Homo sapiens: one gene and its partners. The protein of the gene in region 3 interacts with the protein of the main gene of each other region in a biochemical or structural test. Each region holds a gene or a part of one and is shown on either strand. Other genes may lie near its edges.

The links.
Region 1: the proteins of TLE4 (region 3) and CUX1 form a complex in vitro, tested with the Homo sapiens proteins (one study listed by BioGRID).
Region 2: the proteins of TLE4 (region 3) and POU2F2 form a complex in vitro, tested with the Homo sapiens proteins (one study listed by BioGRID).

What each region holds. Positions count from the first base shown.
Region 1 is NC_000007.14:101,815,426-101,819,168, reverse strand, and holds the start of CUX1 (Homeobox protein cut-like 1), read right to left. Parts: upstream 1,544-3,743; 5' UTR 1,530-1,543; coding exon 1,500-1,529; intron 1-1,499. UniProt on the Homo sapiens protein: May be involved in intra-Golgi retrograde transport.
Region 2 is NC_000019.10:42,090,837-42,094,579, forward strand, and holds part of POU2F2 (POU domain, class 2, transcription factor 2), read right to left. Parts: intron 3,060-3,743; coding exon 2,993-3,059; intron 1,435-2,992; coding exon 1,233-1,434; coding exon of another isoform or gene 1,229-1,232; exon of another isoform or gene 1,105-1,228; coding exon 1,031-1,104; coding exon of another isoform or gene 756-1,030; coding exon 421-755; 3' UTR 1-420. UniProt on the Homo sapiens protein: Transcription factor that specifically binds to the octamer motif (5'-ATTTGCAT-3'). Regulates IL6 expression in B cells with POU2AF1. Regulates transcription in a number of tissues in addition to activating immunoglobulin gene expression.
Region 3 is NC_000009.12:79,570,129-79,573,871, reverse strand, and holds the start of TLE4 (transducin-like enhancer protein 4), read right to left. Parts: upstream 1,908-3,743; 5' UTR 1,082-1,907; coding exon 1,037-1,081; intron 696-1,036; exon of another isoform or gene 541-695; coding exon of another isoform or gene 502-540; intron 184-501; coding exon 86-183; intron 1-85. UniProt on the Homo sapiens protein: Transcriptional corepressor that binds to a number of transcription factors. Inhibits the transcriptional activation mediated by PAX5, and by CTNNB1 and TCF family members in Wnt signaling.

The DNA of each region.
Region 1 (3,743 bases), on a different chromosome or scaffold from region 3:
CAAAGCACTGAAACTTCCATACCACAAGCCTTTGGGACTAAAAAGGAAACGGAATAAAACACAATCTTCAGAAATTCTCTTCCTGAGCACACACTCCTGTGCCAAGGCAGCAGCTTCAAGACCCAGGAAGCCGAGGGACAAGAACCCAGTGAGCCAGGGTTGCAGAACTGCGGAACGGCCCAACCTCACCTGGACCCGCTGACGTCTCCAACCTGGATTTCTCTCTGCAAAGACCGATCAGCCTCTTTACCCCCAGGTGGCAACCCAATCTCAGTATAAAGAGGTCTGGAAAAATGAGAAAAATCTGGAACTAATGAATTCTCTCCCAAACTCGTTCTATTGACTCACTGACTATCGGTGGGAATTAACCAGACACCAACTCCAAAGGCCTCCTCACCGCCCAGAGAAAGAACCAGATTGGCCTGAGACTTGAACTTTGACATTCCGTATTCGACTAAAGTTTGCAAACCCATAGGAAATCATCTAAGGCCAAATCGTTAGCAACCACCAAAAGCAAAGGAGTAAAGAGGAATGAAGTTCAAATAAGGGACTTTGTTTTGGGGTTTGGTTTTGATTTCTTCTTAATATCCACATAAAGTGCAAGTAAACTGACATGGAAACTTTCGATGGAACCCTGGAGCCCTGATCCCCTGAAGAAGTAGCTAATATGGGGGACAGGAAGGTTTAGAGTTCTTAAAATCTAGTAACTCTAGAAACCAAATCCATTTTCCAGGCAATTTTGCCAGGATGCTTTAAAAAAGACACTTCATTGATATTAAGCTAGGATGTCACATTTAGGAAGACAAGAGAGAAAAATAATAATAATGTTTGTCCTTAAAACTCCACAACGGGTTTTACAGTAAGCACAGGAATTAAATTATGGTAAAAGGGAGCTATTTTTACTAAAACAGGGTAGACCAATTTATCAAAAATGCCATTCGGCTGTGTTCATTACATCCAGGAATCTAATTTACACAATAGACACTTTGGAGTAATCTATTTTAGTCAATAAATACTTAAACTCCTTTAAGTTTTAATCTTATCGGAAATACATATTTCGCATAGTCTTCTTCCTAGTTAAGCGAGAAATTTCAGGAAATTTCATAACGACTATGACTCGGCTTTATCGTTCTTAGTAGGCAAGAGCAGAAAACAAGCATATACAATTAAAGTTGTCAGATTCCATTTAAATATGTTTTAATCCAACCCGCTTCGTTTGATACAAGCCTGCATCTCGAGCTTTGCTCCCAAAGGTATTGCGGTAGGTCACTGTCACCAGTCCTCCAGGTTAGGAAAGTTCAGCCAAGTTTATCTTCACGCACACCTTAGCAGTTGGGAGTAGCTGCAGTTCCCCAGGGGCCCTGAGGAACCCTCCTATCCCCTCCCAGAGCACCAGGCCGCCCTAGAGCATTCTAAGCCGCGGGACCCGGGCACCCCCCGACATCCCCGGTTCCCTCCGCGCCTGCAACCTCGGGACTTCTGGCCCACACGCCGCTCACCTTCAACCTGGCTCCGGCTACGCACAACATCCACCTGGCAGAGTCCCGGGGCTGTCCCGGCGCCGCGGGCGCCGAGCTGGCACGTGCGGGGCGGACCCTAAGGGTGCGCCGCTCCTCCGGGCGGGGGGTGGCAGGCAGGCACTCGCCCCTTGGGCACGGCGGCGACTCGGGCGCGGGCCGGGGAGCCCCGGCACGGTCCCCCCGCGGCGCCGGGGACTCCGCGCGCGGACCACCGCCCGGCATGCCACGGTCCCAACGGGCCCCCGGGGCTCTGCTTTCGAGAACCCGGCCCGAGAAGGCATCTCCGAGCGCACCCGCCGCGCGCTCCATGGCGGGCCCTGCAGAGAGGGCAGAAGCCCCGAGGGGACGCAAGGAAGGGACCCGGCGCCGCAGGTCACCGGGGGCCGCCGGAGCCCCCAGGCGCGCGGCGATCGCGGCTCGGACCGGCGGCGGGGAGGCAGCGTACACTGCCCGGGCACCCGGGGGAACAGCTTGGGGCCTGCCTAGGGGAAAGTTGCAGCCTCCTCCTCCCGCGCCCGCACCCGGCGGTCCGGGACACCGGGACCCAGCGACACTGCGCGCGGGGCACCCCCGCCGCCCCTCGCCAAGTTTCCCCAAAGAGCCCCCGCGGGGGTCCGCCACGGAGGAACAGGTCCGCGTCACCGACACAGGCACACAAAAGAGCGCGGCGGCCGCGAGGTGCGCGGGTGGCCCCGGGGCGCTCCCCGGGACGTAAACAAACCCGGGGGTCCGCGCCGGGAGCCACACGCGGGGTGCCGGAGCGGCGGCGCGGCCCGGGCCGGTGACAGCCGGGGGCGGCGGCCGGGGCCGGCCGGGGGTAGCGAGCGCGGGCGCCTGCCCGGCCACCCGCCCGCCTGGCCGGAGCCGGGCCGCGCCGCCGCCGCCGCCGCCGGTGGCCGCTCTGACCCTCCCCCGAGCCGGCGGCACCACAGCGCCACCAGCCCCAGCTCCGCCGCGCCGGCGGCAGTGGCGGCGGCTCCTCCTGGAGAGGCAGGCGCTTCACCCCCCGCAGCAACTCCCCACAAACTTTCCCCGGGAATACGGCGGGCCGGGGGCGCGGGGCGAGCGGGCGGGCGGGCGCCACCGCCGGGCCGCGGCCCCCTCCCGGCGCCCGCCGCCGCCCGCCCCCCGCCGCCCGCTCCCCGCTCCCCGCTCGCGCGCGCACCCCGCGGGCCGCCGGGGCCGCCCCCTCCCCGGTCCCGCGGCGGCAACGGCGGCGGCGGCGCTGGCGGCGGCGGCGGCGCGGGGCCCGGGGGGGCGCCCGGGGTGGGGGCAGACACCGGGGGCAGTGGTGGCGGCGGCGGCTCCCGGCGCCATCTTGGGCTGATCGATGAATTGAACAAAGAGGATCAATTTCCGATCAAGCGAGTGATCAATGGGGGCCGGGGAGCGGGAGGGACTCGGCCCCGACTCGGCCCCGCGGTGCCCGGCACCCCCCTCCTCCCCGCCGCCGCGGGCCCCCCGGCGGCTGGGCCAGCCCGGGGCCCCCGGCGGAGGCCGCGACCGCCCGCAGCCCCCACCCCCGGGCGCGAGGCCGAGCGCGGAGGAGCCTGACCTGCAGCTGCTGTAAATCAAAGCGCTTCCAATATTGAAACATCGATCCCACATTGGCCGCCATCTTGAGACATATTGAGACGGAGTGAGCGGCTGATAGAGAGGGGGCTGGAGTTCAGGAGCCGCCAGGAGGCAGCAGGCGGGCGGCGCCAAAACCCGGCCTGGAGCCGGCCGCCGCCGCCGCCACCGAGGACGCGGACTCCTCCTCACGGCACCGCCGCAGCCATGGCGAGCCCGAGCCGGAGCCGGAGTCGCAGCCCCAGGGCGCGGCGGCCGCGGCCCGGCCTCGCGCGCGCGGCCCCGGCCCCTGCTCCCCCAACCCCCCCACCGCCGCCCTCCCCCTCCCCTCCGCGGGCCGACCGGCGACCCCCGCCCCTCGGGACAACCCCCCCCAAAGTCCGCGGTCGCGCCGGCCACAGACCCGGCCCCGAGGGGGCGCTGGAGGGCAGCGCCCGGGGTCCCCCGGCACCGCGCACCTGGGGAGGGCTGCGGGGGTGGGGGGGGTCTCCCGCTGGGATCGCGATCGCCCGCGGTGGCCGAGCGCAGCGCCTTCAAGACTCCGGTTGGGGGGAACGTCGGAGCGCCCCTGTAGTGGTTAGTGTACAGAGCGCGGAGACGCCGCTACCACCTGCCCGGGACCCCCCACACCCGACCCCTGCGTGGCCCAGG
Region 2 (3,743 bases), on a different chromosome or scaffold from region 3:
CGGTGGCATGAGGTCTGACCTGCTGGAGGCTTCTCCGCCCCTGGCTGGGGTTTTTATTTGGCGTCGTAGCAGTGAGGGTGAGCACGCTGAGGTCTGGCTCGCGACTGGTTTTTTGGTTTGTTTGATTTTGTGGGTTTTTTTTTTTTTTGGTTTGTTTTTGGTTTTTTTTTGTTTGTTTTTCACCTCTGGTTCCTTTGGGGCAGCTGGTTTCTGTTGTGATTATTTTTGGTTTTCTCTTTTGTTGGTTAGTTTCTTTCCTTTTTTTTTTTTTTTTTGGTTGGTTGTTTTTTTGGTCTTTCCTCCCTTGTCACTCCTGCTCTGAGGACCCTCTGCGTCCCCACCACTGGCCTCCTCGCCCTCTTCCCAGGCAAGGGACCAAGGCAGGGACCAGAGGAATGGGAGGGGAGGCATGGCTGGCCCTCACTCAGGTTTGGACCCTGCCTCGGGCCCCCCTGGACCTCCAGGGGTCTGTGCTGCCGTCTCGCTGCAAGTGGAGGAGGAGGAGGATGAGGATGAAGAGGATGAGGAGGAGAGGCCAGGAGACTTGCTGGAGATGGAGGCTGCCACAGCCGCAGCCGCTGCTGAGACCAGGCCCACACCAGGCGGGGTGCTGAGCAGGGGCAGCCCAGCATGATTCAAGAAGAGCGGCGAGGTCACCAGGCCAGGGCTCCCCGGGGCTGCACCGGCTGCCCCCAGCACCAGATTCCCGCTGCCATCAAGGCTGGTAAGGGGCAGGGTTCCACCAGAGGCCAGGGCTGGCGGGGAGAGAGAGAGGCTGGGCTAAGGGCATGCCGGGCCAGGGGAGACCTTTGCCTTCCAGCATCCTGCCCAGAGTGCCCCCCATCTCCCCATCGGTCCCACTGACCCCCATCAGCACCCCTCACACCTTCCCCAAAGGTGAGATGGGTATGAAGAGGCAAGCAATGCAGTGAGCAGGGGCAGGATGGCATGGCTGGAGCAGCAATGGCAGGGCTCGAGGCCCCAGAGGATAGGGCTGGTGACGATGGGTGTGACATGAGGCAGCACGCACCTTGGATAGTGGCCAAAGGGTTGTTGCTCATGAGGGCTGGACTCAGCCCGGAGCTCAACCCCACCATTGTGCTTCTGCAAGAGGCAAAGCAGAGGCATTAGCAGGGGCAGGGACCTGCCAACATAACTGGGGTGCCGCTCCCCACCCTAGAAGCAGCAGCGACCCTGCTTCTCCCCACAGCTTCCCACGTGCACCCACTTACCCCGTGCTGGGGTTCAGGCCTGACAAGCCGATAGCCGAGTGGCTGCCTTGAGGGCTGGGGTTTGTGCTGTTGGTGGTGGCCGGGGGTGGGGGAGTGACAGAGGGGATGGAATTGAGGGGGGGCGCAGCCCCGCCCCCGCCCCCACCCCCTCCAGCTGTCCGGCTGGGGTGGAGCGTCCCCACAGCTGAGGATAAGGTAGTAACTGCCAGAGAGAGACAGAAAGATGGGGTCTTCAGCTTCCACTCGTCCCCCACTGAGGAACCTGGGGTCAGCTCCTACTTGTCCTCCCGCCCAGCTCACGCAGCATCTCCTCAGTCAGAACAGCCTTAGACCTCCCTGCCCTCTCTTCCCAGAGTCATTTCCCTGTGCCTCTGCCATGGTGACCCCTGTCATAACAATGGAAGTCAGAGCAGGTGCTTCCTGCTGAGCCCTGGCACTCTACACTCCCTGCCCTGAACCACTTTTTTACCGACTAGAAACGGGGGTGCCCAGGAGACAAAGCCCTATGGCTCCCTCTAGGGGCTGGGGAGGGGCGAAGGGTGCCAGGCACACTGCCACATCTGAGGGATGGGCAACCTGGCAGGGGCTGAGGGCCCAGACTCAGCCAGACTGCTGGGGTAGAAACTCCTGGCTCTGTCTCATCCCAGTGGTGCCCTTGGGTGAGTGCCTTAACCTCTCTGACCTTCAGATCCCTTGTCTGGAAAATGGGGATAATAATAGACCCTATCTCATAAAATGAGTTTGAGAATTAAGTCAGTCAATGCAGTTTAGAAAGAGTTTAGTACAGTGCCAGGCAAGCACTTACTACTTTATAAATCTCCACTTACTATTTTCTAGCCTGGGGAGGGGCAACGTGTTGTTTTATGTGTATATATATTATGTGTATATATATTATGCATATATATATTATGTGTGTGTGTATATATATATATATATATATATTTTTTTTTTTTTTTTTTTTGAGATGGAATCTCACTCTGTCACCAGGCTAGAGTGCAGTGGTGTGATCTCAGTTCACTGCAACCTCCTCCTCCCGGATTCAAGTGATTCTCCTGCCTCAGCCTCCCGAGTAGCTGGGATTACAGACACACGCCACCACGCCCAGCTAATTTTTGTATTTTTAGTAGAGACAGGGCTTACCATGTTGGCCAGGCTGGTCTCGAACTCCTGACCTCAGGTGATCCACATGCCTTGGCCTCCCAAAGAGCAGGGATTATAGGCATAAGCCACCACACCCAGCGAATTTTATATTATTATTATATATATGGTGTATAACCATACATATAAACCTACCGTGTCCCAGGAAGAGGGAGGGGAACTCTGGATACAAGACTATGTATGTATGCATGTATGTGTGTATATGTACATACACATACACTCTTACATACATGTATTTATATCTTTTTATGTTTTACACATTCATAATAATTTAATAAAAACTGAGGCTTAGAAGGATAAAATAAGTGCTTGAATTCACACAGCTTAAAAATGACAGAGGCCAGGCACAAAACTCAAGTGCCTCACCTTTTACCAGGCCCATGCTTTTCTCATATGAAATCGTGAAGCAGATTAAAGCTGAGTTGCTCCTGCAGAGGAGGGGTGAGTCCTACCCTCTTCCCACTGTCTCTCCCATTCCCCCACCCACACTCCCCAGGCCCAGTCTTGAGGCCCATGGACACCCAGAGCCACTTGGGAACCTCAGGCTCCAGCCTGTGCCACATCCTCCCAGTCCCCCCTCACCATTTTCTGCCCTCCCTGACCTGTTGTGCTCAGACTGCTGGAAGCTTGGGACAACGGTAAGGTCCCCGCGCCCCCTTGGGGTGTGACCTGAGGAGAGAAGAAAGGAGGTGTGGTTAGCCACTGTCTGCCAGCAGCCCCCGTGATGCTCCCTGTAGGACCCCACTCCTCCGTCCCAGGATGGGGGCAGGGGGCTTTGGCACAATGCTGCATTTGTATTATTCCACATGCTTTCTTCACACTTGCCCTAGCTGATCCTGAGCCACAAGCAGGAAGGGCTAATTCTCCATTGAGAACACTCCCCACCTCTCTTCTGACACCGCCCCATCTGGCTAGTCTTTGCAGGGTTGTGTCCTGTCTGAAGTGACTGCACCGGAAGAGTGGCTGCTCCACATGCTCCTGATATTGTTGGTTCTGCAAAACTAAAACTCTTTTCCCTGGACAAGCAAACACCACCCTTTTACCAGTGGGGTTGGCAAGCAATGCAGGAGAGACTGTTCAAAGTGACCCAGGCAGGGAAAGAGCAGATCTAAAGTGCGAGGCTAAATGGATGCATATCTTTGCATCGGGGTGTTGAGATGTCATATTACTTGATTTTCTGGGACCATCAGCTTCCTTCTTGGCCACCCCACCTCCAGTCTCACCTTTGCATCAGCCCCAGAAACCTCACTAAATGTGACTCTCTCCTTCCCCAGCTCAAAACCACTCCTTACCTCCTCACTGCCCATGGTTCAAGTTCCAGCTCTTCACTGTAAAACTTGGGGTACATGCCCC
Region 3 (3,743 bases):
AGGAGGAGGGTAAGTGTTTGTGTGTATTTGTCGGGGAGACAAGAGCTAAGCAAACAGAAGGATCAGCTAAAGTCAATATCGTTACCTGTGGTATTGAGCCTGTAAAAACTGAAACTCTTCCTTAATCCGATCACAGGATTCGGAAATTGTAAATTTAAAGGGTTGAGCAGGCTGATGCGGTGCCTGAAGAACAACAATAAAATATTTAATTAGCCCACATCACAGGCGAAGCAGGGAGACGGAGAAAACCTACTATGCGGCGTTAGCGGGGGGTGAGGGTCATCGCGCACGCAAGCAAAGAGAGATTAAAACTCTCCTCCCGCAACCCTCCTCGCGCCCAACAGCCCAGGCAGAGGCTGGTTTCGAGGTGGTCCTGGGGCCCCGCATACTCCCGCCCGCAGGCCCCCGCGCCCCGGACCCCGAGGGTTCGAGTCCCGTCTCCCCTCCCCGGCCAAAGACAGGCACCCAGGGACCCGCGCGCCGCGCCCACTCCCTCCTCACCCGGAATCGAAACTGGCCCGTCGGGGGGACCCGCGCCATGGCGTCGGGCTGCGGTCAGGCCGGGGGAGGAGGGAGGCGGCCGCCACCCTCTCGGCTCGTTCGTTCGCCCGCTCGCCCCGGCGGCCCGCGGCGCGAGGGGCCGGCGCCCCGCACTTCCAAACCGCAGCCAGCCCAGCAGCGCCGCTGCCGAGGGCGCCCTCCCCGCCCGGGCGCGGAGTCGCGCCTCCTTCATCGCTCGCCACCCCCCCTCGAGGAGTCGCGGCGCGGGGACCGCAAACGGCTCGGCGCGGCTTCCAGGGGCTTCAAAGACAACAATAAGAAAATGGCTACAACTCAATTGCCTCTCCGCACCCCCTCCGAGGGCCACCGCGCCGGGGGGTGGGGGTGATGGCGGGCGGGCTGCTCCCGGCGCGGGGCGCCGATTTCGGGCGGCTCTCCACGCCCCTCCGGCCAAAAGACACAACTCGGTGCGCAGGGGGCGACGCGGGGAATCCCCCAGCACCCGGCGAGCCCGCGCCCCGCCGCCCGCACTCACTGGGTGTCTGGTCTGCGGGTACATCTTGCTCAGGTCGCGAATCATCCAAGCCGATTTAGTTGGCTGCGCTCGGCAGAGGCGCGCGGCTCATTGGCTTTAATGACCCCGAAGAGGAGGCGGCCGCGGCAGCGGAGGCGGCCGGCTCGGTCTGAGGGGCGGCTCGGGCGGTCCCGGCCCCCGCCGGGTCTCGCGTGACACGGGCGGCAGGAACGCGCGGCGGCGGCTGGGTGCCGGCTGCCGGGCCGCTCCGCATTCCCCGCGGGCGTCACTGGCCCGCCGCGGGCATTGTCCGGCGCGCGTCTCCCAAGGCAACGCTCCGACGTTCGCTCCGCCGAGGCGCACCCGCCGAGCCCGGCGCCGCGGCCGCCGCTCACCCGGCCGGGAAAGTGCGGGCTCCGCGCCCCACCGCCCGCCGGCAGCTCCTCTCGCTCGCTCTGCGTCCCACTCCAAACTTTTTTTATTTGTCTTTTAATTGGTTGTTATTCCTCCGAATGAATGATCTTTCTTCTTCCCTAAAAGCAAACACAAACTCCTTTGGTTCGGAAGAGGTCTCGGCGGTGCTTTTTGGTTTCTCTGGAGATTTTTTTCACTTCACAGCAACGATCTTTTAAAAGGCACCTTTTAGCTTCTTTTACCACATCTCATTTCCTTATTTCTCTTCCTTCCTGTTTTCTTGTCTTTTTTTTAACCCCAAATTGAAGGGGATTATAAAAATAAAAGAGTGAAACGCTTGCGGCTTTTTTTTTTAATTCTCTCTCCTTTCAAACTCTGCGAACACCACCTCAAAATAATATACAAGTGTGTGAGAAAGGGGGAAGAAAGCAGCCAACAACCCAAACACCCGCTCAGCACAGCTCTAACAACACGCTCTGTGTAGGTGACTTCTTTGACCAAATTTAGCAGCAGCTAATCATTAACATTCTGATACATATTCACAATCTTCCGCGGGGCGGCCGCGCAGCATCCCGGGAGATGTAGTCCGCCCCGGGCGACCCTGCCTGAGAATACGGCCAGATTGACTACAATCACCGGCCCGCCATGCGAGCGCTCTGGCGAGCTCTCCAAGCGCCCCGCCCACCCCCGTTGCGGTAGGCGTCTCCACCAACCAATCAGAGGTGGCTGAACATTAATCGCCGTTCTGTGTTAGTGCCCATCATTTCACTGCTGACAAATGGCAAGCCAGCGGGGAGGAGCCAACCCAGCTGAAACCCACGTGGGGGCCGGGCGTCGCCTGTAGCTCCGACCAATTAACGAAGAGGAATGAGGTTGGCGGAGGCGGGGCGGAGATGGCCCGCCCAAGGCGGAGCTTCGCCTTGGCTGACGTTCCTTAGCGCGAGCGTTCGAACCGGGAAAACATTTGTTCAGCTGTCAATCAAAGTAACGTGGGGCTGGGAGAATCGGCGGCTGCTGCTGTTGCTGCTGCCCTGGCTGCATCTTCAGAATTAGGTGTTGGTGGTGGTGGTGGTGGTGGCGGCAAAATAAAGAGGGTGGAGGGAGCGGTGAGCCTGGGGGCTGGTCAAAAGATCTTCTTCCGAGTCTCGTCCTCCCGCCCACCCGTCTCCCAACCCAGACACCTTCGGCCCCTCGCTCCGCAGCCGCGCCAGGAATGCGGACTAATTAGGGTCCAATGTCTCCTTAAAGAGACAAGCTCGGCCTTGTGTAACGCGCCGAAACCCCTGTTGAGACAAGAGGGGGAGGATCACGCTGATCTTACTTCGTTCGGTTCACATCAATTTTACGCGCCGCTGGAGCCGGCATAATTTTCCGTGTGAACGCGACTCGGTCCCCGTTCTTGTTTAGAGCCAGAAATGGAGTCGCGAGATGCTGGCTGGGGCCGGGGCCGCGGGGTGGGCGGGGAGCTCGTCCCTCCAAGCCCCGCGGGGGCTGTGATTGCCATTTAGTTCCGAAACAGGCCTCCCTCCCTCCACCCCCGGAGGCACTCGGAGAGAAAGCGCATCCCGACGCTCCATCGGGGGTCGCGGGGGGCAGTAACCGTGGGGGCTCCGGGTGGGGCTGAAGATCCGGGAATCAGAGACGCTGGACCTCCAAAGAAACTTTGCCGACTGGGCCACGTGAACCCCGAACACGGTCGGTACTGAACAGAGCAGGCCGACGGGGCACGGGTAGAAAACGCCCCTGCGCGCCCTGGGACGTTCCCTCCCCCAGATCAGTACCAAGACTGCGCCTCTTTTTCCCGCTCTTTGGAGAAGCAAGTCAAGTTTATCCCCGTTAAAAACAGAGCAGGGTGCCACGCGGGCCCGAGAGATGGCGGAAAGGTGGGGGTGGCCCCAGGGGCAGATGCTGGAGGAGGAGAGAAAGGGGCAGCCATGGCTGAGGAGGGGCACCCCTAGGGAGGGGCCTGGGAAATGGGGGCGGCCTCCGTCAGTGCGCCTTTCCATCCTTAGTCCGTGTCCAGCTGGAGGCAGCGCCCCAGTTCAAGGGGAGGCTGCTGAGGCTCGCAGTCTTTTCTAGCGAGCGGCTAATCTTGGGGACAGGGAAAAAATTCGGAAAAAGTCAAGAAGAGTGTTGGCTAATGTAACAGGCTGGGTTTTAGACGTTTATTTCTATGCGTGCTTGCCTACTGTAACTTGACCTGTTGGTTGAGATGGTGCCGCCGGTTCGGCGTTAGTGGAAAACTATTCTTCTTAATGATATCCCTTTCCTCAGTGGATGACTCGGTGACTTAATGTCCAACCTAGCACGTTCT